Regions from separate parts of the Homo sapiens genome. Here all the other regions are linked to region 2. The links come from fine-mapping of genetic effects on gene expression. A gene starts in region 2. Each other region holds a variant in brackets. All regions are shown on one strand. Distances are between the middles of the regions.

Region 1 (9,952 bases), 24 kb after region 2:
ACACCAGGCCTCATCTGGCCTCCCAAAAGCTTGGGCTCCTGGAGGTGCTACTGTGGGGATCTGTCTTAGGCTGAGTGTCAGCCGGCGGCAGGTGACCGCCTGGCCCTTGCAGTCCCTCCAGGACCACCACGAAGCACGACGCACATCCTGGAGCTCGCCATACCGGCTCCCAGGCCTCACCCTAGGCTCTAGGGTGTTGGGCGCCGCCTCTTCAGGGACCTCTGGCCCAGGCTCCAGTTCCCTGCGGATCTGATGTGGAGGAAACAGCTGTTTCCTGGGCTTTGCATCCGGCCTAGAAGATCCTGGGTGGAGGGACCCATCACCCTCCGAGGCTCACACCCACTGCCCACCTCTCCTCCTGGCGCTCGAGTCCCTTGCCTCATTCCTTGGGCTGTCTCTGGCACCCATCGTTTCGGTTGCCTCCTCATCCTGAACGTTTGCTTTTCTTTTCTCAAGAGGAAGTTCAGAAGCAGAAGGAACTTTCCAAAGCTGAAATCCAGAAAGTTCTAAAAGAAAAAGACCAACTTACCACAGATCTGAACTCCATGGAGAAGTCCTTCTCCGACCTCTTCAAGCGTTTTGAGAAACAGAAAGAGGTGATCGAGGGCTACCGCAAGGTATGTCTCCGCCACCCTGGTGTCCTCACCTCGGAGGCTGATGGACTCATGGTCCAAGCCAGCGGGGCTACAAGCTGCTGTCTTTGCACCTTGGTCCTTGGCCAAGCCTCCCCTTGCCACGGGGGCATGGGATGACCTGTGAACGAGACAGGGTGCAGGAGTCACAGCATAGCTGGTTTGCGAGGCAGCTGAGGGCGGCAGGAGGCAGAGTGAGCAGGGAGGCCATCTGAGCCGTCCGCTGTTGTGTGACAGACGACTCGGCTATGATCAGGCATCTGTGAGATTTGAGACAGCGCTGGTGCACCGGGGCCTGGGGCACCTCGGAAAGGTGTCTGGGCTGTCCGAGCGCTTGGGTCCCAAGGGTTGGGGACCCAGGGCATGCAGTATCCAAGGCGGGAGGCCCACTGAAAGGTGGTCACGGCTGTGCAAGGCCACCCTGGTGTCCTCCTGGCCACGGGACTCTGAGCGCCCCCCACCTTCTGTGCTGGGCAAGGCCCACATGCTTGCTGGAAGGAGGGATGTCTGGGCCATCCATCTGCCCAGAGCAGGCCTGGAAGGTGCCTGCGAGGCCGCCAGAGGGTTCTGCCCACAGCAGCAATGTTGGAGCGGAGGTGCTCAACGCCTCCTGTGGAGGAGCTGGACCTGCAGGTGCAGCTGGAAGAGGGGCTGTCACTGTTGGTGCAAGGGGGTTGGGGACACCAGATGGGTCCCCTGGGAGTCAGACTAAACTGGAAAAGCGGCCCTTGCAGGGCCTGCTGAGCCACACCTCATCTGAGTCCTGAAGTCAGGTGGGTGTCAGTGGCTGGGGCCCAGCTGCCTAACAGAAGCAAGCCTGAATACTCTAGGGAAGAAGGTATCTTATGCTTTAAATTGCTGCTGCAGTTTTAAATTAGTGTCTGGCACAGAATAACCAAGTGTGAAAGGAACAGGAAACATGAGTGAAAATCAGACCCGTTATTAGAGTGAGGCATGGTGATGTACACCTGTGGTCCCAGCTACTAGGGAGGCTGAGGTGGGAGGATCATTTGAGCCCGGGAGGTCGAAGCTGCAGTGAGCCATGATTGTATCACTGCACCCCCAGCCTGGGCAATAGACCAAGACCCCCATCTCTAAAATTAAAAAACAAAAACAAAAACTGTTGATAGACCCACAGGAGCCCCAGACGCTGGAGTTGGCACCGGCAGGTGGTGCCTCAGGTCTGCAGGGAGCAGATGGGAAGGGCCCTGTGGCAGCAGAGTGCCCACCGGCAGCAGAGTACAGCAGTCTGGCCCAGCACAGACGCTTGGAGAGGCAGGACTCTTCACACGGTGCTGCTGGCTTGAGGACACAGCGGCTTTGCTGACCTTCCCTCAGGTTGGGCTGTGGTGTGAGCAGCTGCCTTGGCCTCGCCTCTCCCCGGGGCAGGCCTGTGCCTCAGCTCCCACTGGCCACCTCCCTACTTCCTCATGGAGGCTCCTTTGCACATCTAATCCCATCTTGGACGACCCAGTGCAGACTTTAAAGTAATTGTCTTCTGTATTCAGAAGAGTATTGCTTCAATAGAGACCTTGAAACTAGAAAAGAATCCCCTTCGGGAGACCGAGACGGGTGGATCACTTGAGGTCAGGAGTTCGAGACCAGCCTGGGTTACATGATGAAACTCCGTCTCCTAAAAATACAAAAATTAGCTGGGCAGGGTGGCATTTGCCTGTAGTCCCAGCTACTCAGGAGGCTGAGGTAGGAGAATCACTTGAACCCAGGAAGTAGAGGTTGCAGTGAGCCAAGATCGTGCCACTGCACTCCAGCCTGGGCGACAGAGTGAGACTCCATCTCAAAAAAAAAAAATACAAAAATTAGTTAGGCATGGTGGTGTGCACCTATAGTCCCAGCTACTCAGGAAACTGAGACAGAAAATCATTTGAACCTGGGAGACAGAGGTTGCAGTGAGCCGATATGGCACCATTGCACTCCAGCCTGGGCGACAGAGCGAGACTCTCTCAGAAAACAAAAAATACAGAAAAACTAGGCCGGCTTATGCCTGTAATCCCAGCACTTTGGGAGGCCAAGGCGGGAGGATCATGAGGTCAGGAGTTCAAGACCATTCTGGCCAACATGGTGAAACCCTTTCTGTACTAAAAATACAAAAATTAGCTGGGCATGGTGGCAGGCACCTGTAGTCCCAGCTACTTGGGAGGCTGAGGCAGGAGAATCAATCAGGAGGTGGAGGTTGCAATGAGCCAAGATCGCGCCATCACACTATGGCCTGGCGATAGAGCGAGACTCCGTCTCAAAAAAAAAAAAAAAAAAGCCTGGGCACAGTGGCTCACGCCTGTAATCCCAGCACTTTGGGAGGCCGAGGCGGGTGGATCACGAGATCAGGAGTTTGAGACCAGCCTGACCAACATGGTGAAACCCTGTCTCTTCTAAAGATACAAAAATTAGCCGGGCATGGTGGCACGCACCTGTAGTCCCAGCTACTTGTGAGGCTGAGGCAGGAGAATCGCTTGAATCCGGGAGGCGGAGGTTGCAGTGAGCCGAGATCATGCCACTTCACTCCAGCCTGAGTGACAGAGTGAGTCTCCGTCTAAAAAAAAAAAACAGAAACTAGAAAAGAACCAAATGGAAATTTCTAACAGGTACACAGTTAACAACATTAACAATTCAAAGGGTACAGGTCAGATGAGGGAAGCAGAGGCTGAGTTGGGAACCAGTGTGTGGACGGCAGCCCCCAGAGCCAGAGGGAGAGACGCCGCTGTGGCGGGAGGCTTGACCTGTGCACACGTGAGAGCTTCCGGATGCCGCCTCCCGGACAGACGCTGTTGGGAATTTTCCACAGCAGAGAAACACAGTGCTGTGGGTTTAAGGGAGGCGTGACCTCCGCAGGACATCAGGGGCTGCATGCTGGGTAGGGGCTCAGGGAGAGGCTGCAGTGCTGAGGGTGCTTCTGGGATACAGGGCTGCGACAGAGGAGTGAGGATGGCTGGGCTGTGAGGCCGCTGGGGGCACTGCAGGAAGAAGGCAGGTAGGCTGAGCCTTCCCAAGCAGAGGCCACTCGGGGACCCAGGAACCCCTCAGTTAGGGCTTCTCAGTCACTGAGCGGAAGGTGCCCCCAGAGGGGGCAGCAGCCTGTGAGGAGCAGGCGTGTCTGGGTAACCATGTGGCTCCTGCTGGCCTCCCCTGCCTGTCCCCAAAGCACAGGGCTCAGCTCCAGAGGGAGACGGGCTGGGCTGTCAGTGGTCCCAGGTGCATCCCACTTTCCAGCAGCACTTGGTGCCAGCAGAGGCTGCAGGTGTGGCAGGAGGGGGCCCAGCCGTGAGGGCACCAGGTTCAGGCCCGGCATCTCAGGGTGGAGAGCCAGGGCTGTCCTGAACCTCCAGAGGGGGTGAGCTGGGAACTTGTGTGAAGGGGCTTTTTCCAAAAGGAAAACGGGAGCTACTGGCTCACGGCTGATGCCCCAGACAGCCTCGAGGATCTGCAGGTCCCCAGACACCAAGCCTGGGTGCTCTCCAGCAGACGGCGTGGTACCCACAGCTAATGCCTGCCCCTTCCTAGAACGAAGAGTCACTGAAGAAGTGCGTGGAGGATTACCTGGCAAGGATCACCCAGGAGGGCCAGAGGTACCAAGCCCTGAAGGCCCACGCGGAGGAGAAGCTGCAGCTGTGAGTGCTGGGCGAGGCCCCACCCTGGAGGGAGAATCTGAGCACCTGGGCCCCAGCTCAGCCTCTGCCCCGCCCCTACCCCTCCAGGGCAAACGAGGAGATCGCCCAGGTCCGGAGCAAGGCCCAGGCGGAAGCGTTGGCCCTCCAGGCCAGCCTGAGGAAGGAGCAGATGCGCATCCAGTCGCTGGAGAAGACAGTGGAGCAGAAGGTGGGTGCGGGAAGCCCAGCTCAAGGGGCCGTCTGGCAGCACCTTCTAGAAGGCCCTTGGGCCTGCTGCTCCCTCCAAGCAGGGAGAAGCCCCGCAACTCATCTTCCTCCTCCAGACTAAAGAGAACGAGGAGCTGACCAGGATCTGCGACGACCTCATCTCCAAGATGGAGAAGATCTGACCTCCACGGAGCCGCTGTCCCCGCCCCCCTGCTCCCGTCTGTCTGTCCTGTCTGATTCTCTTAGGTGTCATGTTCTTTTTTCTGTCTTGTCTTCAACTTTTTTAAAAACTAGATTGCTTTGAAAACATGACTCAATAAAAGTTTCCTTTCAATTTAAACACTGAAGCCGCTCTGGTCTTGATGAAGCAAAGGTTTCCCAGCTCTAGCCTGAGGCTGAGCCGACCCGCAGGTGCCCTCCCTTCCCCTCAGAGCTGGCCACTTGGTCCCTGCCTACCCCAGGCTCAGGCCACCCTGCCGAGGGGCAGGGACAGCCAGTGGATAGAGGAGGCTCAGGCCTGCCCAGTCTGCCCCGGCCACCTCGGGTTGGCTACATGGTCCTGGCCTCAGGTACACACATCAAAGTCCAAATGGACTCGTTTTTTTGTTTGTTTTTTTGTTTTTTGTTTTTTTTGAGACAGTCTCTCACCCACGCTGGAGTGCAGTGGCGTGAACTCGGCTCACTGTAAGCTCCGCCTCCCAGGTTCACGCCATTCTCCTGCTTCAGCCTCCCGAGTAGCTGGAACTACAGGCGCCCGCCACCACGCCCGGCTAATTTTTTGTATTTTTAGTAGAGACGGGGAAGTTTTCATATAAAACAAAAACTGTGAACAGCCAGGCATGCATGCCGGTGGCTCTGATTCTGGTGCCGACCTGGCGAGCCTGCAGCCCCAGCTAATTGAGCGCTCACCTGGGTGTGGGTGTGGAGGGAGGCCCCCTGCAGGTGCAGCTGCTCAGCTCCTGTCGTCCTCGTCCTTGGGGGCGTGGAGACTTCAGAGCAAAACAGGCTTCCCTGAGGAAGTTCTGTCTCCACACGGCAGGGCTTCCTCCCCGACCCTAACCCCATCTCCAGCAGTCCCGTCCTGCGGATCTCAAACTCAGACAGGCACACTGGAACCCAAGGCAGTTCCAGGAGCCCTTCTGGTCAGGCAGAGGCTTGGCCCAGCTGGGGCATCCCGGGA[A/AC]CCTGGGTACCGAGCTGAGAGATGCTGGTCACTGGGTTCAGCCATGGCACCTAGGACCCCAGCACCAGCCAGAGGGCCAGGGCCTCCTGAGGGGCCAGGCAAGACCAAGGGTTGACGCTGTAACCTGTTTCCAGGGGTCGGTGCTGCTGCTGTGCCCAGATCACGCCGTCCAGAAAAGCCGTTTTCTCCCATCAGTGAAGAGTGGGGCTCCCCACATAGGGAGGGACCCAGGCCGAGATCTGGCCGCAGTCACCTGGCCCCAGTAGTGTCTGAGCCTGGGGGTTGCAGTCCCAGGACCTGCTTCCAAGGCTCTGCGAGTCTGCCCCTTGGCCTGGTGAGCAGCACTGCAGTACTGACCTCGGGTGGGCGCAACAACACCCCCAGCCGCCGCCAGGGGTCGCTTGCCGCCATGGGCCATGCAGGGACCGGACCAGGTGGGTGACACCCTGAAGGGGCGGGGCACGGGTGCCAAGAAGCCGCATGGACCGCCAGGGAGGCTGAGGGGCGGGCAGGGGCTTCAGCCTGGGTGGCCAGTGGGGTGTCCCCAAGGGCATGAGGGTGCATTTGTTCTTAGCACGTTTGGAGGAGGGGGCCTGGCACAGGGATGGACGGCCACAGCGGGCCATGGCCAGTCACGGCTGGGGCAGGGACTGGGCCAGCCTCAGGGGGGCCTGGGGGCCACTCCCTCCCCCTCCACAGCCCACCTGTGCTCCTGCGGCACCTCCTGACTGGCTTCCCAGGACCATCGCGCCCCTCCCTCCCGTGGGCAGCAACCCCCATCTCAGCCCCGAGCCTGGGTAACAATAGGGTGTAATCCCTGGCTGAGGGGCCTCTGAGAGCCTTCCGTGGCCCACTTCACAGACGAGAAACCGAGGCCCACAGACCAGTGGCCATTGGCCGGGGGAGACGGGCCAAGCACAGGGTGTGGGCCCCCTCTCCTGCTTGGGGTTGAGGATATGGGGGAGAAGAAGGGCCCTCGAGCCTCCAGAGCTCACCAGCTGCCCTATGGGCAGCACGGCCCGCCTCGGCCTCCCCGCTGCCCACAGGCATGTCCGGCCGCAGGACTCCCACCTCTCTTTGCCGGGTCAGCTCTGCTCTGACAAGGTCTCAGGACACAAGGCGGCTGCCAGGTCCTCCTCCTCACTCAGCCCTGCCGGTCTGGCCTTCTGGCTCCTCTGACAGCTGCCCAGGGCCCTGTCCCCTGCTGGGGCCTCTCTGAGCCAAGCCGGGAGCCTGCCCGGAGAAGGCCGTGCAGGGCGGCTGAACGTGTCAGGGCACCTGGCCGGGCCTGGGGCCGCGCCGAGGACACCGGCCACCAGGCAGCGTCCTGGGCCGGGAGCCTCTCTCCCAGGACAAAGGGGCCTTGTGTGGCTGAATGGGTGTTTATCCTGGAGCCTGAGTTAACTCAGGGCTGCGAGGCCGGGCGGGGGCCCTGGCACTGGCCTGCCTGGTAAACATGACCTGAGCTGGGCACGCAGCCGTGGCCTGGACTTCCGCAGCCCCGGACCCCCTGCACATCCACGCAGTCGCCTTGTGGGGGGCTCAAGGAAACAGGAGCTGTCCTGGGGGCTGCCTCCGTGGGAGTCCTCATACACAGTCATGGAGGCAGCGCTCGGCTCTGCCCTTCCCACAGCTCAGGGCAGGGCTCAGAAACACCCCCCCGACGTGCCCCATTGGAAGGAGGGGTGAGGGTTAGACGAGGTCGTGAGGGTGAGGCCCTGGTCTGCTGGGATTAGTGTCCTTGCGGGAAGGCAGCAGGCCGGGAGAGCACTTTGGAGGAACTGACCCGCCAGCACCCTGATGGCGGACTTGGCGCCTCCAGAACCCAGAGAAACACGTGTCTGTGGTGCAAGCCATCTGGTCCCAGGCAGGATGAGACCCCGCCGTCCGAGGGGCTGTCCAGCCTGGTGCCCACCCACTGCCCAGCTCCCCCTGCAGCCAATATCCAAATCCCGAGGGGAGTGCAGGGCTCAGCCCACATGGAGAAGCTAGGTCTGTGGGGCACCCCCACCCCTCTAAGGCCACCTAGGAGTGGAACCTGCAGCTGCCTCCCTGGGCTGGTCAAGACCCTTTCAACAGGGCCGGTGGGGCTGCCCCTCCAAGCTCACTCCCATGCCCCCATGCTCTCTCCAGGGGCCGCCAGCCACCAGGCTGGATGGAAGAGGGGGTGGGGGCGAGGGAGATAGGCCAGGACAAGCTGACCACAGCCCGAGCGTTCCCTGCCAGGCACCCCTCTGCAGCCCCCACCCTGCCCTACCCAGCCTGAGCCCCGGGAGAGAGTTCACCCAGCCTGCAGGCAGACCCAGATCACCCTCCCATGGACTCAGGAGCTGTCCCCAGCCCAGGCTGAACCCCAGACCCCTTTCGGTCCCCAAGGTCCATGCCAGTGAGGGTCGCTGCAAGCCCACGTGGTTGCCGGAGGTCCCTCCTCCAGCCCATCACTCCACTTTCTGGGAAGGACCCCCGGAGGCCTGGGGACTAAGCCCCGGCGCCGCGCCGGACTGCCCTGGTGGGCTGAGCGCACATCCCTTGTCTCTCTTAGGGAGCTCTGTGAGGGGCAGGACCGGGCCAGCAGCCGCTCAGGAAGCTGGAGCACGTGAGGGAAAAGCCCTGTCCCCACAGGGCTGAGGCTGGACGAGGTCCAAGGAGGGGCTTCTGCCCGAGCCCAGGCCTTCCTTGGGGTGTGCTCCAGTAGCAGGTGCGCGTGCCACCTGTGCCGTGGGTTGGAGGGGTGGAACGTGTACGTCCTGGCTGCCCCCGAGCTCTGGGGACCCCGAACTCCTGGGGCTTCTGCCTGAGCCTTTGGACCCCAACAGCCTGCAGGGGGCGCCATTGGGCCACCGGAGCCCCTTCTGCAGACCCGGCGCGACCGCACTCCTGCCAGGCTGTTCCTACCGCCTGGCCACAGGCCTCCAGGAGGGGCCCCCACCCTGGGGCGACGAGGAGCCACCTGGGCCCGCACCAGGCCTCCCCACAGGGCCTCCCCACCTGCCCCCTCCCCACTGCTCTCCCTCCCCACCGCTCTCCCTCCCCACCGCACCCCCTCCCCACCACGCCCCCTCCCCACCGTGCCCCCTCCCCACCCAACGTGCCCCCTCCCCATCACGCCCCCTCCCCACCTGTCCCCCCACCACGACCCCTCCCCACCTGTTCCCTCCCCCTGCCCCCTCCCCACCACGAACCCTCCCCACCTGTCCCCTCCTCACCTGTCCCCTCCCCACCTCCCCCCTCCCCACTGCGCCCCCTCCCCAATGCACCCCCTCCCCAACACGCCCCCTCCCCACTGCCCCCCCTCCCCAAGGCACCCCCTCCCCAACACGCCCCCTCCCCACTGTGCCCCCTCCCCACCATGCCCCCTCCCCATCTGCCCCCTCCTCACCTGCCTCCTCAGCATAGCCCCCCCCACCTCCCCCTTCCCCACTATGCCCCCTCCTCACCACCCCCTCCCCACCAGCCCCTCACTGCGACTTTGCCTCCCCTCTGTTCCCTGGACCCTGCACACTCACCAGACCCCTGGAGGTTTGTGGAGGGCAGGGCTGGGGACTGGGAGGTTTCAGGCCATGCAGGGCTGGAGGCAGCACACCAGGCACCCTCGCTAGCTGAGGGTCTGGCCTAGCCTGATAGGGGGACTGCAGGACAGGGGGGCCCTGGCAAGGCCCAATCCCTCCCTCCCTACCCAACCCTGCCCAGCTGGGTTCTGGGAACACACCCTGTAACTGGGTGGCTGGGGATATGGCGCTCTACAGCCTGAACCACCAGTGGTACTCACTGGGTCCTCCAACTCTGCAATTCTGCAGGCATGGACCAGACTCCAAGAAACAGCCCCTCGAACGCGTCTGCCCCAGCCCGGTTCCAAACACCAGGCTGAGGCTGCACAGTTTGCAAGTGTGTCAAATGAATGAAGGAACAACTGTGCAGGCTCCAGGAACCCCCACCCCACGGTCCCCGCCCCCAGTCCCCGCCTCCCTTCCACTCAGGCCCCTCCCTCCAGGCCAGCAGGGGTGAGGTGAGGGCTTAGAGCCCCTGCAGACATCAGGGTGGGCGGGGCCCCTGCCCTGTGTCTCCTCTGTCCCTCGATGTCCATTCGCACCCGTCTCCCCAAACCCCACTGACACGGACGGCCCCACCTGGCTGAGCTCACAGGAGCTCTGGGGCCCACTCTGCAGAGAGAGGAGGGGGCGGGGGGATGCACTTATGTTTGCTTCTGAGGGACAGTGGGCAGAGGAGGGCTGTTTGTGAGTGAGACACTCAGGCCCCGGGCCTCTGGACCCTCAAAGAAAGGGTTCCTGTGTGGGCTGGGGGCTGCCTCT
Region 2 (9,952 bases):
ACTGGTCACAGCCACCAGGAAGCCCCAGGACTGCTCCCACACCACAGCAGTGCCCTCTTCTCCATCCCACCCTCAGGACCTACCCAGGGTCCTCCAGGCAGCCAGGGGCCAGCTCCAGGACAGGGCAGGAGAATGCGGTCCAGGTCTGGCACGTAACTGAGGGTGGGTATGCTCCAGAGAAGTAAGGCAAATGGCCCAGATGACGACCACCTGGGGTAGACCCAGGGTCTCCAGGGAATGGCTCGGGGGCAGACGCTGTGTCTGTGTGTGCAGGATCTGCCCCCACCAGCAGGAAAGGGGCAGGAGGGAGGCAAAGAGGAGGTGCCCAGGACTTGTACCCTGGCTGCCAAGCAGGGTGGGGTGTTTTCATGAGGATTGCTTTTAACCAAAAGTCCTCAGCCTTCTGCAGACCCAGGGCAGAGGCGAGTTGCTCTACATCATGTGCTTTAAGTAGAGCCCTTTGCCAGCCAGGAGGCCCAGCCACCCCCTTCCCTGCCCTGTGGCTTTGGGGGGAGACACAGAGTCACCTCAAGGCCCCAGCCCACTCAGCGCACGGTGCACACATCCAGGATGCAGAAGCGTGCGCGGCAGGTGGGGCAGGGCACGCGGCTGGCCAGCCAGGTGTCAGGGCGCAGGGGGTCCTGGCGGCTGGCGAACCACTTGCCCATGCAGGTGAGGCACCACATGGGGCGGCAGTAACACTGCTGGCACTCGCCTGTGGCTGCCTCCTGGCAGGTCTTCACCAGCTTCACGCTGGCACGTGTCTGCATGCAGCCTATGCAGGCCTCCAGCTCCTGCGGGCAGGTGGAGCGTCACCAGGAGCCCAGGCAGACACCCGTGGGCACCCACCCATCCACCCGGCCCTGGCCCAGGCCCCCCACCTGGCTGCTGGGCACTGAGTAGGCCGGGTTGACCTCTACCAGGGAGGCAAATGTCTCCAGGAACAGGTCGCCCAGGCTCTGGTGGATGACCACATGGGCTGCCCTGCGGATGGGTGCCCGGAGCTTCTCGCAGAGCTCCCCGTACTCAGTGGAGTTCAGCCTGCAGGGAGGAGAGCTGCTGGGCCCCTCTGCAGGGCAAAGGGAGCGGAAGATGGAGGCTACACCCCAAGGAGTGACAGGGCAGCTGTCGCACCAGGACCAACCAGGAGAGATGGCCCTAAGGCCAGAGCCCACGGACCCAGTGCCAGACAGCCCAGCCTGGGCACGGGACGGACCTAGGAGCAAGGCAGCTGTCCAGCCTGAGGGCTGCACTGTCCTGAGTGCTCCCCAAGAATCTGGGGGAGGTGGCTCCAGGGAGTGGAAGGGGAGGCCAAGAGTGCAGGGGGACCCGAGGGAGGGCTATGCGGGAGGGCTCAGTGACTGGTGTCTTGTGGACACCTTGCCTGGTGTCACACAAGCCCAGGAGTGTTGGAGTCCACACCAGCTACACCCAGCACCTCCCAGGGGTCGTGGCACCAGAGCCTGGCTCTGGCCTGCCATGTGCCCTCCGCAGCCCCACAGGCACCACACTCTTACCAGATGTCAAAGGCCTGCACAGCAGGGTTGGTGCTGGCCACACGGATGGTGAGGAGCTGCACGGGCAAGTTCGAGTCTGGCGAGAGCTCATGCTGCCGAGACTCCGTCACAGTCAGGTGCACGTCCTGCTGCTGGGCCACGTGCACTCGGTAGGTGGTTACCTTCATCACCCACGTGTCTGTCACAATCACACGGGCACCTGGTGCACCGGTGGCAAACTTGTCAATCCGCCGGAACTCAGTGTTGACAGAGGAGGCAACAGCCTGCCAGCCAGACTGTGGGAGGGCGTAGAGGGCCAGGGTGCGCGCCAGTGGGTGGCAGGCCCACCGGTCACGGGACCAGTAGTAGATCAGGATGCAGGCGATGGAGGGGAGGGTCACGGCCAGCAGCAGGAAGAGCCGCCAGGCCTCAGGGGCCTGGCTGAGGGCGTGGAGCCGCTTTTCTGAAGCCGCAAGGCACATGCCCACATAGTAGCCTGCAAAGGACAGGGTGAGCCTCAGGGGAAAGTGAGTGGCAGGCCGCTGTCCACCCCCCGACAGCCCTGGACCTGGCCCTCTGCCCGGGTTCCAGGGTCAGCTCCCAGGGTAATTGGGCTTTACCCACTCTGCACTTCCCCAGCCGGCCACTCTCTCCCTGCCTGTGGCAAAGGCAGGATATATTAGCGGAAAAGGTTTTTAATTTGCTGCTTTAGTTTCACACAATACGTAAGTGTTGAAAAAACTACAAAAGCCTAGAAAGGGAAAAATAAACACAATCAGGTGTCACCTCAGGCAGAGCTGACCCCTGGCCTGCCAGGGCAGCTGCCTGGACAGGATCTCAGTCTCTCAATCTCACCCGCTCTGAGGAGGCTGATCAAATGTGGTGCATCCCAGAGCTGAAAAGTTATGTGCGAGAAAGGAAGCAAGTCTCAAAGAATGATGGGACATGTCCAGAGGACACGGAGCCAGCTTCAGGGCCCTGCTGGCCAGATCGAGGACAATTTGAAGGTCCAAATAAGCCATGGAGATGGTGAGGAGTTGCACCAGCAGGTTCCAGTTGGCAAAAAGTAATAGTCCACATTTGGAGTTGGCCCAGTCACTGCATTTCAAGGTAACATGACATATAACAATAGGTAACTAGGGGCCGGGTGCAGTGGCTCACACCTGTAATCCCAGCACTTTGGGAAGCCGAGGCGGACGGATCACGAGGTCAGATCGAGACCATCCTGGCTAACACGGTGAAACCCCATCTCCACTAAAAAATACAAAAAATTAGCCGGGCGTGGTGGCGGGCGCCTGTAGTCCCAGCTACTCAGGAGGCCGAAGTTGCAGTGAGCCGAGATCATGCCACTGCACTCCAGCCTGGGTGACAGAGCGAGGCTCCGTCTCAAAAAGTAAAAATAAAAATAAAACAGGTAACTAATACCTAATAAAGCTTGAAAACTTTCAAACTAAGTTAAAAATAAAAAGAGCTTGACATCCGACTGTGAGGCCAGCTGTGCTGTCTGCTCCAGGTGTGGCTGCCACAATTCACTTGTGGTCCCTCATAGGCCTCTGGGGAGGGTGCAGCTGGAAGGGCTACAGAAACCCACCCAGTAGCCCTAGAAAGTGGCCTGGTCAGGGCCCCAGCCCCACTCAGCCCCATCCATCTCTCAAGTGGGCCCCCAGCCCACCCTCTCCATGAGGCAGGCCTGGGCGCCTCCACCCGACACCTGCCTCCAGTTCTTCTGGGCCCAGGCAGCTGCATCCTCAAACCAGGATGTGGAGGGTCACCCCTCTTGTATCCCCAGAGTGGCAAACCTGGCCAGCCACTGGCCATCTGTCCTCCCAGGGCTGCGTCTGCCCCCGTGTCCTCCAGAGGTACCCCCTTGAAATCCCCCTCCAGCCACTGCACACCCCACCTCCCACCTGTCCGTCATCCAATCAGCTGAGAGAGGGACCTTCCAGAGCCCCAGCTAGCACCTGGGGCCCAGCCCAGCACCCCCCTGGACAACTCTGAGCGTCCCACCTGCACTGCACAGAGGCCCTCCCCAGCCTCTGCCCCTGTGGCGCCCCCAAACTGGAACTGCCTCCAAATCCGCCTGTTCTCTCCACACCCACCTTCCAAGGCCTAGTGCAGTGCCACCCTCCACACAGCCCCTCCGACCCCTTCCGTTGGACTCAATCAACAGTTGCCTTCTCCTGGCCACTGCCCCCAACCACGACAAGCAAGGGCTGCTTGGCCTTGCAACCCCCAGGCACGTGACGGTTCAGGACTTGGTGGGCCGGAGCATCCCTTGCCCAAGGTTCTGAACTTGGGTTCCCGTCACCTGCAAGTCAGTGCCGGCGGCGCCCCTAAGCGCGCTCAGCCCACGCCGCGGTCCCTCTGGATGAGGACCGGCGCCTCTCCCCAGCTGCGCCCAGGCGCTTTCGGGGCCTCGGGGAGCTGGCGGAGGCCTCCTCCTGACCTCCCAGCAAGCCCTGCGCAGGAGAGGATGCGGCCGGCCGGCCCGAGCAGCCTCACCGAGCGGCAGCAGCGAGTGGCACAACAGCGTGGCGGCCGTGCGGCGCAAGTGGAAGGGCACGAAGGCGGCGTCCTCGCTGCCCAGCCAGCCCGACAGCAGGTTCTGCACCGTGAGCCCCGCCGCGTGGAACTCGTTGGGCGTGAACACGAAGCACACGGCGAACACCAGATAGGCGAGAGTGAAGGTCACCTCGGGGCTGTCCATCGCGCAGCCGCCGGGAAGCTGTCGAGCTAGGCCCCCGCCCCGGCGCGCGGACGAGGCCGCAGCGCCCAGTCCCGGACCTGTCGGTTGCGGCGGCCGCCGCCCGGCCGCCCGCGGGGCACTCTAGGACATGGAGTCCCGCCGCCCGGCCGCCCGCGGGGCACTCTAGGACATGGAGTCCCGCCGCCCGGCCGCCCGCGGGGCACTCTAGGACATGGAGTCCCGCCGCCCGGCCGCCCGCGGGGCACTCTAGGGCATGGAGTCCCGCCGCTCGGCCGCTCGCGGGGCGCTCTGGGAGATGCAGTCCCCGTGCGGGTGCGGCCTCTCTTCTCGGCCGGCCCTGGAGGCGGCACCGCACCTGTGCATTGAGCACAGGTGGGGAAACTTAGGCCTGAGCGAGGCCCTGGCCATGAAGCCCCGCCCAGTAGCGTCAGTTGCGGAACTCGAAATTCATGGGGCGACTGCGAGCCCGGGGTCTCAGCTTCAGACACCCTGGCGTGCCCTCCACTCCGGAAACGGAACCGTCGGCGCCCGAGCGGGGGGTGGGGGGGGAGGGAGGGCGGAGCCGGCGAGGCACAGCTTCCCATTGGACGCCCGCCCTCCTGCGGTCCTGCCCCCGGCCGCGCGCTGATTGGCCGCGCGAAGGCAACCGTCGGCGTTTGAAACTCCGGCGCGCCGGCGGCCATCAAGGGCTAGAAGCGCGACGGCGGTAGCAGCTAGGCTTGGCCCCCGGCGTGGAGCAGACGCGGACCCCTCCTTCCTGGCGGCGGCGGCGCGGGCTCAGAGCCCGGCAACGGGCGGGCGGGCAGGTAGGAGAGCGGCTACACGGCGCGGGGAGGCTGGGGTCCTGGGGGCGCGAGGCCGTCCCGCCCCGCCCCGCCCTCGGCCCTCGCCCTCCCGCCCCGGCCGCCGCTTTCCCCGGGAAGCGTCCCCCACGGCTCCTCCTGGGGCCGCCGCCAGAACCTGTACCGCGCCCTGTCATGGGACCCGGCCCTAGACCGACCGCCGGGCTGGGCCCCCTGGATGGTGGCCAGGGGCGGCTAGAGCTGGGCCAAGACCGACGGCGGAGCGGGCGCCCCGAGGTGCTTTGCTCTCCTCGACCCTCTCCTGTCTCTCGGTCGCCCACCTTGGCTCTTTGTTGGCTCCCAGCACGCGGACCCTCCTGTTGTTCTTTGGTCCCTTCCGGCCTCCGTCCTGGGGCCAACTCCATCTAGGCCGCCTGCGGCGGACACCTGGGCCCCTACCGCTTCCCCGCACCTGCTGCGCCGCTCCACCTTCCCCCCGCACCGCATCCCTCTTGTGCACCAGAGTAGCACCAAAGCACCAGCCTGGGGCCGGTCCCTTCTCTGCCCAGAGCCCCTCCCGGGCCTCCATAGTCAGTAAAGGCCCCTCCTGACTAAGGCTGGGTCTGCTGCTCTCCCGAGCTCCTCCAGGCCGCCAGAAGGCTTCCTCCGAGTCACTTTCTCCCTGAGTTCGAGGCTTGCGGGTCCCCCAGCGATCCAGCACCCCTTCCCCTGCCCTGTACCCAGTTATTCAGGGCGAAAACCTAAGCGTCGTCCGTAAGTCCCATATGTGCCAGTGGCCAGGCCCGGGTCTGGTCTGGCATCTACTCCTTGGGCTCCAGAAGCCTGTGGTTTCCCTGCTTCCCTTCTGCTCTTAACCTCCCCACCCACACACAGCACCACAGTGGGCTTCTCAAGCTGCAGCACCGACCTGCCGGGGCTGCCCCCTCTCTCTTCTCCAGGACCCTCCCCAACTTTGCTCTTCTTCAAATCAAAGCCTCCCCAGGTCCCCCTCCACCACCAGGTGCCTGTGGGGTTCCTGCCCTGGTCGACACTCGGTTCTCTCTGGCAGCCTTTTTCCCTACGTCATTCCCTAGACTGGGAACGCTGTAGACAGAAAGGGTGGCAAGTGTGTGGGTGACCGGCGTGAGGACCTGGGCAGCCCTGGAACCTGGGACTGACTGGAGGCTCTGATGTGGAAGTTCCTTGGCACCTGTTGCTCAGCTCTGGGCTTCCCTTGTTTGCGCATCGTCTCCCAGCTCCTCCTCTGGGCCTTCACCCTCTCAGCCTGGTCTTGTCCCGCTGCCTAGCCCGGTGGGAGAGAGCAGACCAGAGCCGCTGTCCTGCTTTTCTGCCCTCTACTGCCCGGTCCTGCCTCACGTCACACGCAGAGGCCTGTGGGGAGACCAGGGCTTCCTCTGGCTCATCCGGGTTTCTTATTGGCCCGGGCTTTTCCGTCTCTTGACTTCTGCTTGATATAGTAATACAGCAGTAGAGATTATGCAGGCTTGGGTTTTCTTTCTCACCATCTCAGCCTGAAGGCCCTTTAGCTCTTGGTCCCAGGAAGCAGCAGTGCTGCCCATGGCTCCCCCTGCCAGGCTGGAGAGTGAGTCTCTGAAGCAAGATGGGGACTCAGTCTGAGGCTTTCTCTGCCAAGAGACACGTGTGGGAGGTGTGAGTTCCAGAGCAATGAGCACACCTGTGTGGGAAGTGGTCGTGCCCCTTGCAGCAGCTGTCACGTCTGTGTCTGGACAATGTGGTAGTGTTGCCCTCACACTGACACAAACATGTTCTGCTTTTCCAGAATGAGTCTGCAGGTCTTAAACGACAAAAATGTCAGCAATGAAAAAAATACAGAAAATTGCGACTTCCTGTTTTCGCCACCAGAAGTTACCGGAAGATCGTCTGTTCTTCGTGTGTCACAGAAAGAAAATGTGCCACCCAAGAACCTGGCCAAAGCTATGAAGGTAAGTGTGACCTGTACAGTGTGTGGCTGGCCAGGTTGCCCTAGGGCCTGCTTTCTTGGTGACCTCTGAGCTGCAGGACACTGCTGGTGTGGCTGTAACAGCTTGAACTAATGAATAGGTGCTCTCCTCCTCACTCCGCAACAGGTGACTTTTCAGACACCTCTGCGGGATCCACAGACGCACAGGATTCTAAGTCCTAGCATGGCCAGCAAACTTGAGGCTCCTTTCACTCAGGATGACACCCTTGGACTGGAAAACTCACACCCGGTCTGGACACAGAAAGAGAAGTAAGTGTTGGTGCTGCTGGACATGCTGGAGCTTCACCCTCTCTGTCCGATGGTTCTTGCAGGAAAGTGCTGTCTTGTTCTATCAGGCCTTGGCTGGATTTTTTGTTTGTTTGTTTGAGATGGAGTCTCGCTCTGTTGCCCACGCTGGAGTGCAGTGGCGCGATGTCCGCTCACTGCAAGCTCCGCCCCCCAGGTTCATGCCATTCTCCTGCCTCAGCCTTCCAAGTAGCTGGGACTACAGGCGCCTGCCACCACGCCCGGCTAATTTTTTTGTATTTTTAGTAAAGAAGGGGTTTCACCGTGTTAGCCAGGATGGTCTTGATCTCCTCCTGACCTCATGATGCGCCCGCCTTGGCCTCACAAAGTGCTGGGATTACAGGTGTGAGCCACCACGCCCGGCCGGCCTTGGCTGGATTTCTCCTGAAATCTGCACTGAGTGTATGCAGCATATGGCCAGTTCACTAACAGAAAAGTCGATCATCAGATACTTGGATAACTTCATACTTCACTTTTTTTTTTTTTTTTTTTTTTTTTTCTGGAGACAGAGTCTGGCTCTGTCACCCAGGCTGGAGTGCAGTGGCTCGATTTCGGCTCACTGCAAACTCCACCTCCCAGGTTCATGCCATTCTCCTGCCTCAGCCTCCCGAGTAGCTGGGGCTACAGGCGCCCGCCGCCACCACTCCCGGCTAATTTTTTAGCCGACCTGATTCTTAACTGCAAGTGGATGGCGAGGCGGTGTCTGTCTTTGCCTAGAAAGGGAGGATCCTGGTGGCAGCTCTTTACTCTGCGGCTGAACTAATCTGTCTGGGCACCCAGGAACACCTCATCTGCATCCAGGGTGGGAAGGGACCCCAGAGGCATGATTTTCTGTTGGTTTTTTGCTGATGTAACTGTTGTTGCTGTTGTTTTGAGACAGAGTTTCGCTCTGTCACCCAGGCTGGAGTGCCGTGGTGCCATCACAGCTCACTGCAGCCTCAACCTCCTGGGCTCAAGCAGTCCTCCACCTTGGCCTCCTTAGTAGCTGGGACTACAACTGTGAGCCACCATGCCCGGCCAATTTTTTTTTTTTTTTTTTTTTTACACGGAGTTTCATTCTTGTTGCTCAGGCTGGAGTGCAATGGTGCGATCTTAACTCACCACAACCTCCGCCTCCCAGGTTCAAACGATTCTCCTGCCTCAGCCTCCGAGTAGCTGGGATTACAGGCATGCGCCACCACACCTGGCTAATTTTGTGTATTTTTAGTAAATATGGGGTTTATCCGTGTTGGTCAGGCTGGTCTTGAACTCCCGACCTCAGGTGATCTGCCGGCCTCGGCCTCCCAAAGTGCTGGGATTACAGGCATGAGCCACCACGCCCGGCTGGCCCAAAACTTTTAAGCAGATTTTAGATGTGCAGAGAAAAGCATAAGGAACAGAATACCACTGATGCTTCTCACCCCCTGAGATAAAATGTCACCAGTAAGTGCAGGCAGCATTTCCTACATCCTTCTCTGGGCCCTGGGTCCGTCTCCCCTCTACCCCTCCAGCCTGAATTTGCAGTTCTTCCCATGTCTGCTTGCTACTTTTCAACTTTGTTTTTTGCCCCTTTTGAAATTTGGTCAAACGAAGCGAGAATGAATCAAACATTGGTTTACAACGACCCCAAGAAGGAAGGGAGACCCAGCAGCAGAGAAGTCGCCTCCCAGCTGCCATGGGTGTGATCCGTCCCAGAGCCACAGATCCCCTGCCTCTCCCCTATGCCTCCAGGATCACCCAGCAGCCTCCATAGGGCAGAGGGTGTAGAGGAGCTGGGAGGGGCTTGAGAGGTTGGCCCTGAGGGGCTCCAGCCAGAGTGACTCTGAGCTTGTGGCTTGGACTCGTGGCTGTCATCTCCTTTCTGGAACTCTGCTGAGGCCCAGGTGGTGGTCACTGTGGTGCTCCCACGTCAGTGGGATGAGACCAAGAGCAGCCGCTGCGTGCAGCTGCCCACGTGTCATTCAGAGGACAGCCGAGTGGCCGCCTGGGAAGGCAGTGCCGCCCCAAGGTGGCAGCTGGGCAGCAGAGGAGTTGTGAGCAGTCTGACAGGTCCCTCACCCTCAGTTTCTCAGTTTTGACATCTTCAAACTTAGAGTTGGAAGAGAAGGGCAGGTGACATGGGCCCCTTATCTGAGGCACTGGCACATGACCCTGCGTCTTCTCAGGGACCTGAAGGCTGGGGAACAGGTGAAACAGTGTTTGTGCCCTCTGTGTTGTAGTCCAGCCCCAACCATCCCAACAGCCGCCTCTTCTGTCAGGGGCCCTGCGCCATGCAGTCCCACATTGTGAGCAGCGAGTGCCCCAGAGACAGGTGGGTCCCTGGGAAGGTGTTCTCTGCACCTGTGCCACTCCACTGTAGCAGGCGCCATCCCAGGGAGGCGTCGCAGAGGCCACTCAGGTCCTTCTGTGCCTGCAGGTGGCATCCTGCACCTCAGCCCTGCCCTTCAGTGAAGGCTTTGACTGTCCCTGGCCACAGCACTGCCAGTCCCCGACTTGAAGGGGAAAGCAGATTCATGCAGAAAACCTTTGTTTACCACGCCCCCTGCTGGCCATCCTGGGGCCTGCAAGTCCCCAGGACTGATCTGTTGGGCATGTCCTCGGGTGAGGTTTAAGCCACAGGACAATGTTGACTGAGCTTTCTTGTTTTGCTTGTAGCTGATGTTTTCACGCAGATTAAAGTGTTATCGGAATGCTGTCAGGT
Region 3 (9,952 bases), 320 kb before region 2:
GGATCATGTTTCTTATCTGTCCTGCTGGTCTCTGCCGTGAATCTAAAGTGTGTTTCTTGTAAACAGCATATAGTAGGATAGTGTTTCTCATCTGTCTTTCTGGTCTCTGCTCTGAATCAAAAGTGTGTTTCTTGTAGACAGCACATAGTGGGATCATGTTTTTCATCTGTCCTGCTGGTCTCTGCTGTTTGAGAGGGATGTTTAATCCATTTACATTCAGTGTGATTACTGAGAAAGTTGGATTTGTATCTGCCATTTCTAAATTTGTTTACTATATTGTCTTTTTTGTCTTTCTTCCTTTATTTCTCCATTACTTTTTTGTGTTAAATGGACATTTAATTCTCTTGTAACATTGTAATTTCCTTGTCTGTTTTACTGGGTTTTTTTAAAAGTAACTTTCTTAGCAGCTGCTCTGAGTATTACAGTAACAACGTAAAACCAATCAAGTGTTCAGATGAACTTAATATAATGTACAAAAACCTTCACTTCAAGTAGCTTTGTTTCCTCTCAGCTTCTTGGTGCTGTATTTGTCATATAAATGCTACCTTTTAGATTGTAAGTCCGTCAGCAGTCTTGTAATTATTGCTTTATGCAGTTGTCTTTTAAATCACATAGAAGAAGAAAAGATGTACAAACAGAAATGAGTTTCTGCTGTCTCTGTTGCTGGCTTTGCAGTTGTCTTTTTTGGTGCTCTTTGTGTGGATTTGAGTGTGGTGTCTTGGACTTCAGCCTCAAGTATTTCTTGTAGGACAGATCTTCTAGCAATGAATTCTCTTTGTTTTTGTTTATCTGAGAATGTTGTAATTTTTCCTTCTCTTCTGAAGAATAATTGTGCTGGATATGGCTGACTTGGTTGGCCCTCTTTTTCTTTCAGTCCTCTATAGATGTCATTCCACTGCCTCTGGCATCTGTGGTTTCCATGGCGGGAGCACCGCACCATGTCTCAGTCTCTTTTTAGCTTCTGACTGTTTGACTGTGGTGTGTCTAATTGTGGATCTTTCAGTGTGTCCTACCTGCAGTTCTTTGAGCTTCTTGGATATAGAGGTTAATATTTCTTGTAGTCTGATTGTTTACATCTTCTCTTCACTTATTGATCTTCTGCCTAGTTATATTGATATTGAATGTGGGTATTGAATCCTTCGGTTTTGTCAGCTTCATGTTCAGCCAGTGACTGGACAGGGGACCCCTTTAAGTGCTTTGCACCAGTAACTCTCATGGTTCTGCTGACACACAGTTGATGTGTGGTGAGTATGCCTTCAGCGCTCCATTGTGGTTCTGCAAATTTGGGAAATTTTAGGTTGTCGTTTCTCGAAATATTTTATGTCCATGTTCTCTTCCCCCACTTGGACTCCAGCTACGTGTGTTGATGTGGAGCTGGGCACAGCCTTGGAGGCCTCCTTGACTTTCCTTTATTCCGGAATTTTTTCTTCTTCTCAGAATGGGTCATCTCAGTTGACCTATCTTCAAGGTCACAGATGCTTTTGCCAAACAAAACCTGATGTCAAGCTGCTCTAGTGAATTTTTCATTTCAGTTATTGTACTTTTCTACTCCAAACTTCCATTTGGCTCTCTCCTATAATTTCTGTATCTTTACTCATATTCTTTGTTTAGTGAAACATTCTCATACTTTAATTCTGTAGACACAGTTTCCTTTAGTTATTTGAACATATGTGTAGAAGCTGATTTAAAGTACTTGTCTAAGCCGGGCGTGGTGGTGTGCACCTGTAATCCCAGCTACTTGGGAGGCAGAGGCAGGAGAATTGCTTGAACCCGGGAGGCAGAGGTTGCAGTGAGCCAGGATCAAGCCATTGTACTCCAGCCTGGGCCACAGAGCGAGACGCTTTCAAAACTAGATAGATAGATAGATTAGATAGATAGATAGATAGATAGATAGATAGATAGATAGATAGGATAAGATAAGATAGATAGGTGACTTGTCTACTAAGTTCAACATCAGGGCTTATTCAGGGGAAGTTCCTATTGATGACCTTTTTTCCCATGTCAGAGCCAAGGAAATAACATACTCTTTCTTTGTGGTCTCATATATATGTATTTTTTGAAGACTGGACACTTTAATAATGTGCTGTGCAACTCTGGAAATCAGATACCCTCTCCACGAGTTTATTGTTGTTCTGTTGCTGTTACCTTTTGTTTAGTGTGTGTTCTGGACTAATTTGAAGTGTCCACCTCATCAGCTTCATGTTCAGCCAGTGACTGGACAGAGGACCCCTTTAAGTGCTTTGCACCAGTAACTCTCACGGTTCTGCCGACACGCAGTTGATGCATGGTGAGTGTGCCTTCAGCGCTCCATCGCGGTTCTGCTGACACGCAGTTGATATGTGGTCAGTGCTCCAGCAGGCAGCTGCCAACTGTGCCTTTGCCTTCACTTCTTACTTGCACACAGCCACAAAGCCAGCCAGAGGTGAGGGCCAGGGCAGCTCAGGTTCCTCTCGGGCACACACACAGCTCTGTGCCTGTGTGGGCACAGCCTTCCATGCCTCCAGGAGTGTGGCAGAGCTTCTCAGCGGCCACTGTGGGCATCTCGTTCCTCAGATCTTCCTTTCATGAGTTATGTAGTTGAATTATCAATCTTTCTTGGCTTCTAAGTTTTGTGTTCTACTTAGAATGCTCTTCCCCCTTAAAGATTATATTTGAAATGTTTTCCATGTTTTCTTCTAGTACTTTTATGGGTTTCATTTTCATATTGAAATCATTGATCTACTTCTAGTTTTTGATACAAAATGTGAGCCAGGAAACCCAGTTTTTAAATTTCAAATAGCTGTCCAGGTGTCCCTGCACCTCTTATGCATGAGCCCTCGCTTTGTGCCAATGTGGAGTGCCCGCCTGCTCACACGTGCCCATGTGGAGTGCCCGCCTGCTCATGTGCCCATGTGGAGTGCCCGCCTGCTCACACATGTCGATGCGGAGTGCCCGCCTGCTCACACATGCCCATGTGGAGTGCCCGCCTGCTCACACGTGCCCATGTGGAGTGCCCGCCTGCTCACACACGTGTCCATGTGGAGTGCCCACCTGCTCATGTGCCCATGTGGAGTGCCCACCTGCTCACATGTGCCGATGTGGAGTGCCACCTGCTCACACACGTGCCCATGTGGAGTGCCCGCCTGCTCACGTGCCCATGTGGAGTGCCCGCCTGCTCACACGTGCCGATGCGGAGTGCCCGCCTGCTCACACGTGCCCATGCGGAGTGCCCGCCTGCTCACACGTGCCCATGCGGAGTGCCCGCCTGCTCACACGTGCCCATGCGGAGTGCCCGCCTGCTCACACGTGCCGACGTGGAGTGCCCGCCTGCTCACACGTGCCCATGTGGAGTGCCCGCCTGCTCACACGTGCCAACGTGGAGTGCCCGCCTGATCACACGTGCCCATGTGGAGTGCTCGCCTGCTCACACGTGCCGATGTGGAGTGCCTGCCTGCTCACACGTGCCCATGTGGAGTGTTCGCCTGCTCACACGTGCCGATGCGGAGTGCCCGCCTGCTCACACGTGCCGATGCGGAGTGCCCGCCTGCTCACACGTGCCCATGTGGAGTGCCCGCCTGCTCACGTGCCGATGTGGAGTGCCCGCCTGCTCACACGTGCCCATGTGGAGTGCCCGCCTGCTCACGTGCCGATGTGGGGTGCCCGCCTGCTCACATGTGCCGATGTGGAGTGCCCGCCTGCTCACACGTGCCCATGTGGAGTGCCCGCCTGCTCACACGTGCCGACGTGGAGTGCCCGCCTGCTCACGTGCCCATATGGAGTGCCCGCCTGCTCACACGTGCCATTGTGGAGTGCCCGCCTGCTCACACACATGCCGATGTGGAGTGCCCGCCTGCTCACACGTGCCCATGTGGAGTGCCCGCCTGCTCACACGTGCCCATGTGGAGTGCCCGCCTGCTCACACACGTGCCCATGTGGAGTGCCCGCCTGCTCACACGTGCCCATGTGGAGTGCCTGCCTGCTCACACACGTGCCCATGTGGAGTGCCCGCCTGCTCACACAAAGCCCTGGCATGGTGGTTCTGTAGGTTTCCTGTCCTGCCGGCCGAGTCAGACGCTGTTACCGTACATTCTACTCATGGTGGCTTTTTAATACGTTTTTATGTCAAGGATCCCTTTTATATTTCTCTGCACCTCGAGATAACGTAGGAATATTAGGGATGAGATGGAAGAGGAGAGGGTGTTTTTGTAAAATTGAATTCAGGACTGATTTGTTAGCCTGGTGCTTTTCGTATCAGACCTTTTAATGAATTTTCATGGATGCTGATTAAAAGACAAACCTGTGACTCAGTGTTTGTGACCAAGTGAGGGGCCCTGTGGGGTGGGGGTGCTGGGCCGGCCCTTCTGGCTGGTGGGGTGAGGGGTGGGGCCTGTGCACCTGGGAGCAGCTCCAGCACTGCGGGCTCAGGGCACTGTCAGTGACTTGGCACTAAGGGGGTGCTGGGGGTGGGCCCTCCTCAGATCCCCTCAGCAAACCCCTTCCACCCACACTTGCCACAAAGTGGTTTGGGTCCCCATGAGCCAGGCAGATGGCGGGGGGAGGAGCCTGGGGGGGTCTGGCCTGCA[G/C]ATGCACGTAGGGGCTACTGGTACGGCTCACAGTGGGAGGGGGCCCGTGCCAGCTGGTCCAGCATGCTGCTGCCCTCATCCAGGGCAGACTGGCTGAGGTTGGCCCGGAGAGCAGCAGGGGGTGAGTGCGAGGAGTGACCAAGGGAGGACTGGTGGGCATGGGTCACAGCCCCAGCGCTGGGGTGGATGGGCCACCATGGAAAGTGGTGTCAGGGTTAGCAACACAGAACCAGAAACTCCAAATAAGAGTGGCTCGTAGACAGAAGGGTTTGTGTCCTATTGAATCAGGGTCCAAGGGTAGGCGCCCCCAAGCACCTTCCAGTTCCTGGCTCAGTATCAGAGCACGTGGCCTCCAACCCCAAGGCTACCTCATGGCCCAAGGTGGCTGCTGGGGCTCCAGCCATCACCAGGTCTGCAGAAGGAAGGAGGAGGGCTTTGCCTCCCCTCTGAGCTGATTCCCATAAGGAGCCTTCTCAGTCCCCTACCCCCACACACACTGTTCATGTCGACTTGGCCAGAACCTAGTCACAGGCAGCACCCAGCTGCCTGCTGCCCCAGAGGCAGGACATGTGGAGCTCAGCTCATCTGAGATGAGCGCTCAGCCACAGCCTCCCAGGGAAAGAGAGAAGGCGTCTGCACCAGCAGAGCTGTCTCCAAAGGGGACCACACTGCAGGGCAGTCGGGAGGAGGTGGGACATGGACATCCCCAGGTTGTCACCCATGAGCAAGGTCCCCCCCCAGTGGATGAGATGCCCCCACCCCACGGGCCTCTGTGGATGAAAAGGTGACCTTGGGATGGGGGAGGGGCAACAGTGCCAGAGGCAGGTGGGGGCCACAGTGGTCGTGAGGGCAGGGATGGGGCTCAGCCCTGCCTCCTCCCTCAGGTGCAGTCCTGCAGCCCTGCCTGGCTGCCCACCCCTGCCCCTTCCTCCCTGTGCTCACCTCCCTCTGCTGCTGAGCTATTCGTCCAGCCTCACCTCCCCGCCTCCCAGCTGACGCTGTGCACAGCTGGCCAGAAGAGACCAGGAGTGAGGGGGCACTCAGTCACCAGGGAAGAGATGGGGGACCCAGGTGGCCATCACAAGCAGGACACTGGGTGTGGGGAGGCCTGAGCACCGCAGGGAGGTCCTAGGGATGGGGGGACAACGTGGCGGTGGCCAGGGGGGATGTTGGATGCAGGGTGTTTTCGGGCATCTGGATGTGGGTAGATCAGGTTGGATGCAGGGTGTTTTCGGGCATCTGGATGTGGGTAGATCAGGTTGGATGCCGGGTGTTTTCGGGCATCTGGATGTGGGTAGATCAGGTTGGATGCCGGGTGTTTTCGGGCATCTGGATGTGGGTAGATCAGGTTGGATGCCGGGTGCTTTCGGGCATCTGGATGTGGGTAGATCAGGTTGGATGCCGGGTGTTTTCGGGCATCTGGATGTGGGTAGATCAGGTTGGATGCCGGGTGTTTTCGGGCATCTGGATGTGGGTAGATCAGGTTGGATGCAGGGTGTTTTCGGGCATCTGGATGTGGGTAGATCAGGTTGGATGCAGGGTGTTTTCGGGCATCTGGATGTGGGTAGATCAGGTTGGATGCCGGGTGTTTTCGGGCATCTGGATGTGGGTAGATCAGGTTGGATGCAGGGTGTTTTCGGGCATCTGGATGTGGGTAGATCAGGTTGGATGCCGGGTGTTTTCGGGCATCTGGATGTGAGTAGATCAGGTTGGATACAGGGTGTTTTCGGGCATCTGGATGTGGGTAGATCAGGTTGGATGCAGGGTGTTTTCGGGCATCTGGATGTGGGTAGATCAGGTTGGATGCAGGGTGTTTTCGGGCATCTGGATGTGGGTAGATCAGGTTGGATGCCGGGTGTTTTCGGGCATCTGGATGTGGGTAGATCAGGTTGGATGCCGGGTGTTTTCGGGCATCTGGATGTGGGTAGATCAGGTTGGATGCCGGGTGTTTTCGGGCATCTGGATGTGGGTAGATCAGGTTGGATGCAGGGTGTTTTCGGGCATCTGGATGTGAGTAGATCAGGTTGGATGCCGGGTGTTTTCGGGCATCTGGATGTGGGTAGATCAGGTTGGATGCAGGGTGTTTTCGGGCATCTGGATGTGAGTAGATCAGGTTGGATGCCGGGTGTTTTCGGGCATCTGGATGTGGGTAGATCAGGTTGGATGCCGGGTGTTTTCGGGCATCTGGATGTGGGTAGATCAGGTTGGATGCCGGGTGTTTTCGGGCATCTGGATGTGGGTAGATCAGGTTGGATGCAGGGTGTTTTCGGGCATCTGGATGTGAGTAGATCAGGTTGGATGCCGGGTGTTTTCGGGCATCTGGATGTGGGTAGATCAGGTTGGATGCAGGGTGTTTTCGGGCATCTGGATATGGGTAGATTGGGTTGGATGTGGGGAGGGTGCTTGGTGCCTGGGGTTTGCTCTGAGGCTGTGGGGCTGGCTTGGTCTGGGAGGAGCTTGGTCTGGCTTTGTGGTGCCTGGAGGGCCCCTGGCCCCCGGGGGGACATCGCAGGGCAAGGACAGGGCGAGGCACACCATTACCAGGACACTGCGGGGCAAGGACAGGGAGAAGCACACCATTGCCAGGACATCGCGGGGCAAGGACAGGGCCAGGCACACCATTGCCATGGCAGGAAGGCAAGTGGAGGATGAGGGTTCCCCAAGCCCAGGCTGCCCAGGACTCGGAGCAGGAGGAACCAGCCACCAAGTGAGCAGGGGGCTGAGGAGGCCACGCCAGGATGGGGCAGCCAAGGGCCCGAGTGACGGCGAGAGCCTCCTTAGGGGTGGAGAAGTGAGGAGGAAGTGTAGACAGCAGGTGTAGACGGCTCTTTCGATACTTTGGCTGGAGGCTGGGAGGAAAGGGGGAGAGCTGGAGGCCACACGGGGTCCAGGGAGGGTTATGCCTAAGCCTGGAGACACTGGACGCATCTGAAGCCCAGCAGGGGCTGTCTCCCCTGGCAGGACGCAGGCAGGTGACAAGATCCTATGGCTGGAAGATGGGCTTGGACCTGTGGCCAACCCAGGGTGGGGTTATGGAGAGGGTACACCAGACACCTTAGGGTGTAGGAGCTGGGTGCCCACCAAGGTCGAGGCCCTGGGCTTCGGAAAAGACCAGGCGGGCTGAGGGCGACTTTCTTCAGAAGCCCAGCTGCCTGGGGCTGGGGGTGTGGGCAGGTGGGCATGGGTGGGGAGCACAGGGGGGCTCGGCAGGGGCAGCCGGTGGCCCCAATCCATCCTCACCTTTCACTAGGAGTGAGATGCCTGGGGGGAGACTGCACTTCCCAGCCTCCCTTGGCTAAGAGAGGGCCCGTGACCCAGCTCTGGCCAATGGGACATAAGCAGCTGTGTTGTGTGGGCTTCCGGGAAAGCTCCTTAAAAGAGAGGGGTGTTGCTGGCCACTCCCTTTCTTCCTGTTTGCAGCCGGGGGTGAGGATGTGGTGGCTGGAGCCTCAGTTTCCATTGGGTTCTGTGAGGCTGAGGCCCGTCCAGGCCTGATGCAGCACAGAGAGCCAGGAGCTGGGTCTCCAAGGACTCAGTGAAGGTCTCAAAACTGCCCAGGGCTGCCACGGCCAGAATTCCCTCACAAAGAGAAAGTAAACAGTCTCCTTTCAACTCTCTTCATTCAGGTTTTCTCTTACACGCAGCCAAACCCAGGCCTGACCCACACAGCAATGGACCACAGCACCATCGGCTGGTGGGGGTGGGGAGGTGGCCTCAATGGGAGGCCCCTTACCGTCTGGGCTCAGCGGTCCCTGGGCAGGAGACGGGAGCCCAGGGCGTGAGAGCAAACGCCGCCCTTGTCTGGGCTCATGCTCGCTTGACAAGAGGCCCCTTCTGTGCCTGGCTTTGCAGCAACGACATGTGTGTGGTTCTGGGAACTTGGGGCAGGTGTGGTCCAGGGCAAGATGGGTCCTGAGCCCTAGGAGGAGGGTCCATGGAAGAGTGCCCTCAGATCCTGAGGTTGAGACCTTCCCTCACGGCCCTGACACCAAAGTGGGGGACACGTTGAGACCCCTAACAAGGCTCCCGCTCACCTCTGCCTGCAGCACAGGCCCAGGGAGCTGAAACTGAGTCAGGCACAGGCAGCCTAGACTGGAAATGGCGGGCAGGGGAGGCCCAAACCTGGTGGAAATGGGGGTGGTGGGGCAGCCCGAGGGCTCCCTGGGAGGCAGGCAAGGGAATGGCTCCCCAACTCTCCCAGGGAGACTGGGGGCCTGGGGACCCAGTAGGAGTGTGGGCTAAAAAGTGGAGGCTCCTTCAGGAGGGAGCAGGGCACCCACTGGCACCAGAGCTGGCACTGCCCCCAGCAAGCCCCATGACTGCCGGGCCTCAGTTTCCCACATGTGACTCTCAGCAAAGCACAGTGGGAGGCTCAGGTGGCTTTGCACGCAGTCCGACTCCGACGAGGGTCCGCTGCAGAGTGACTGTGAATCAGAGACTGGAGGAAATGCCCCCCATGCCTGCAGCATGAGGCTGTGGGCTGTCCAGGGAGCTTAGAGAAGGGGTGGTGCAAGGAGGGGGGTATTGCTTCCCAGACCTCACAGCCCCCGGCCCATACCCTCCATCCCATCCTGCAGCCCAGGGGCACTGCTAGAGGGCCCTCCGGTGTGGCTCTGTGTTTCTGGCTGAGGCTTGAGGGGAGGAGACAGAGGAGGCCAGGGTGGGGGCATGTGGAAGCTGGAGGGACGGGGAGCCAGGATCTAAGCTCCATGGGAGGGCTGCACACAGCGGTCTGGCCCGGCTCTGAGTGGGTCTGAATCTGGCCTGCACCGTCGCAGCCACCTTCTATCATCTCCCTGTGGGGCTGTGAGCTCCTGGAATGTTCCAGCAAGCTCAGCAAAGGGGAAGGCCCTTGCAGCACAGACCTGGGTTCCTCCTGGCCACGCAGCAGCTGCTTTCCCACTCAGCAGCCCCAGTGCCCAGCTTAGGCCAAGCCCGCTGCACTGGCTTCAGCTGTGAGTCGACCCTCTGGCTACACTTGGCCACCTGCAGGTGGCTCGCCTTCCCTCATGGACCCCCACCGAGCAAGTCTGAGCTCTGCCAGCGGAGGGAGGAGGGAGGAGGGAGGAGGGAGGAGGGAGAGGCTGCCCTGCCCCCGGGCTGGTGAGCCTCAGGACGCTTGCTGCAGGCAGGTGACTTCACCTATGCGGACCCAGAAAGGGAGCAGAGAGCAACTGGGAGTCAGGCCGGCCCTTGGCTGGAGGAACCAAGGCCTGCCTGGGGCTTGGGGTGTGGGGGCAGCAAACACACAGGGTGATCCCAGCCGCCCCTGCGCCCCGCCCCCTCAACCTGCCCGATGGCCGGTGCTGCTCTGGGCCTGCTCTCTGTCCACAGGTGCTGGCCAGGCCAGTGGGCAGCAGTGTCTCCCATCTTGCCTGTGGCACTGGGTA

Alleles and levels. Alleles are on the strand shown, and positions count from the first base shown. SD is a standard deviation of normalised expression in the study named. Not every link is listed here.
For the expression in whole blood of the gene that starts at base 4,887 in region 2, allele A in region 1 goes with a higher level than allele AC (moderate effect, 0.46 SD a copy in Lepik 2017).

What was found. PIP is the estimated chance that this variant, and not a neighbour inherited with it, causes the effect. A credible set is the group of variants that fine-mapping cannot tell apart.
Region 1: its variant is the best candidate, but not a certain one, in a credible set for the expression of TACC3 in whole blood (Lepik 2017, PIP 0.77).
Region 3: its variant is the best candidate, but not a certain one, in a credible set for the expression of TACC3 in monocytes after R848 (Quach 2016, PIP 0.67).

The regions. Positions count from the first base shown.
Region 1 is chr4:1,740,370-1,750,321 of GRCh38, forward strand. It overlaps TACC3 (transforming acidic coiled-coil containing protein 3), which reads left to right. Exons shown (of 16, transcript NM_006342.3): 13 at 457-617; 14 at 4,149-4,255; 15 at 4,343-4,463; 16 at 4,579-4,802. The coding sequence ends at 4,644. It overlaps LOC112268460 (a long non-coding RNA gene), which reads right to left and starts at 457. Exons shown (of 2, transcript XR_002959774.2): 1 at 351-457; 2 at 1-249. RefSeq lists a silencer at 8,453-8,652. The variant A/AC (reference allele first, on the strand shown) is at 5,643.
Region 2 is chr4:1,716,635-1,726,586 of GRCh38, forward strand. TACC3 (transforming acidic coiled-coil containing protein 3) reads left to right here and starts at 4,887. Exons shown (of 16, transcript NM_006342.3): 1 at 4,887-5,009; 2 at 6,787-6,949; 3 at 7,094-7,236. The coding sequence starts at 6,788. TMEM129 (transmembrane protein 129, E3 ubiquitin ligase) reads right to left here and starts at 4,689. Exons shown (of 4, transcript NM_001127266.2): 1 at 3,999-4,689; 2 at 1,518-1,992; 3 at 882-1,041; 4 at 1-794. The coding sequence starts at 4,203. The coding sequence ends at 546. RefSeq lists enhancers at 2,820-2,899, 3,540-3,639, 4,722-5,717 and silencers at 4,230-4,279, 4,290-5,099.
Region 3 is chr4:1,391,708-1,401,659 of GRCh38, forward strand. It overlaps a transcript of UVSSA not described here. Among named protein-coding and RNA genes, the nearest start is that of NKX1-1, 9.8 kb to the right of the region's middle. RefSeq lists enhancers at 2,730-3,929, 3,530-4,270. The variant G/C (reference allele first, on the strand shown) is at 4,563.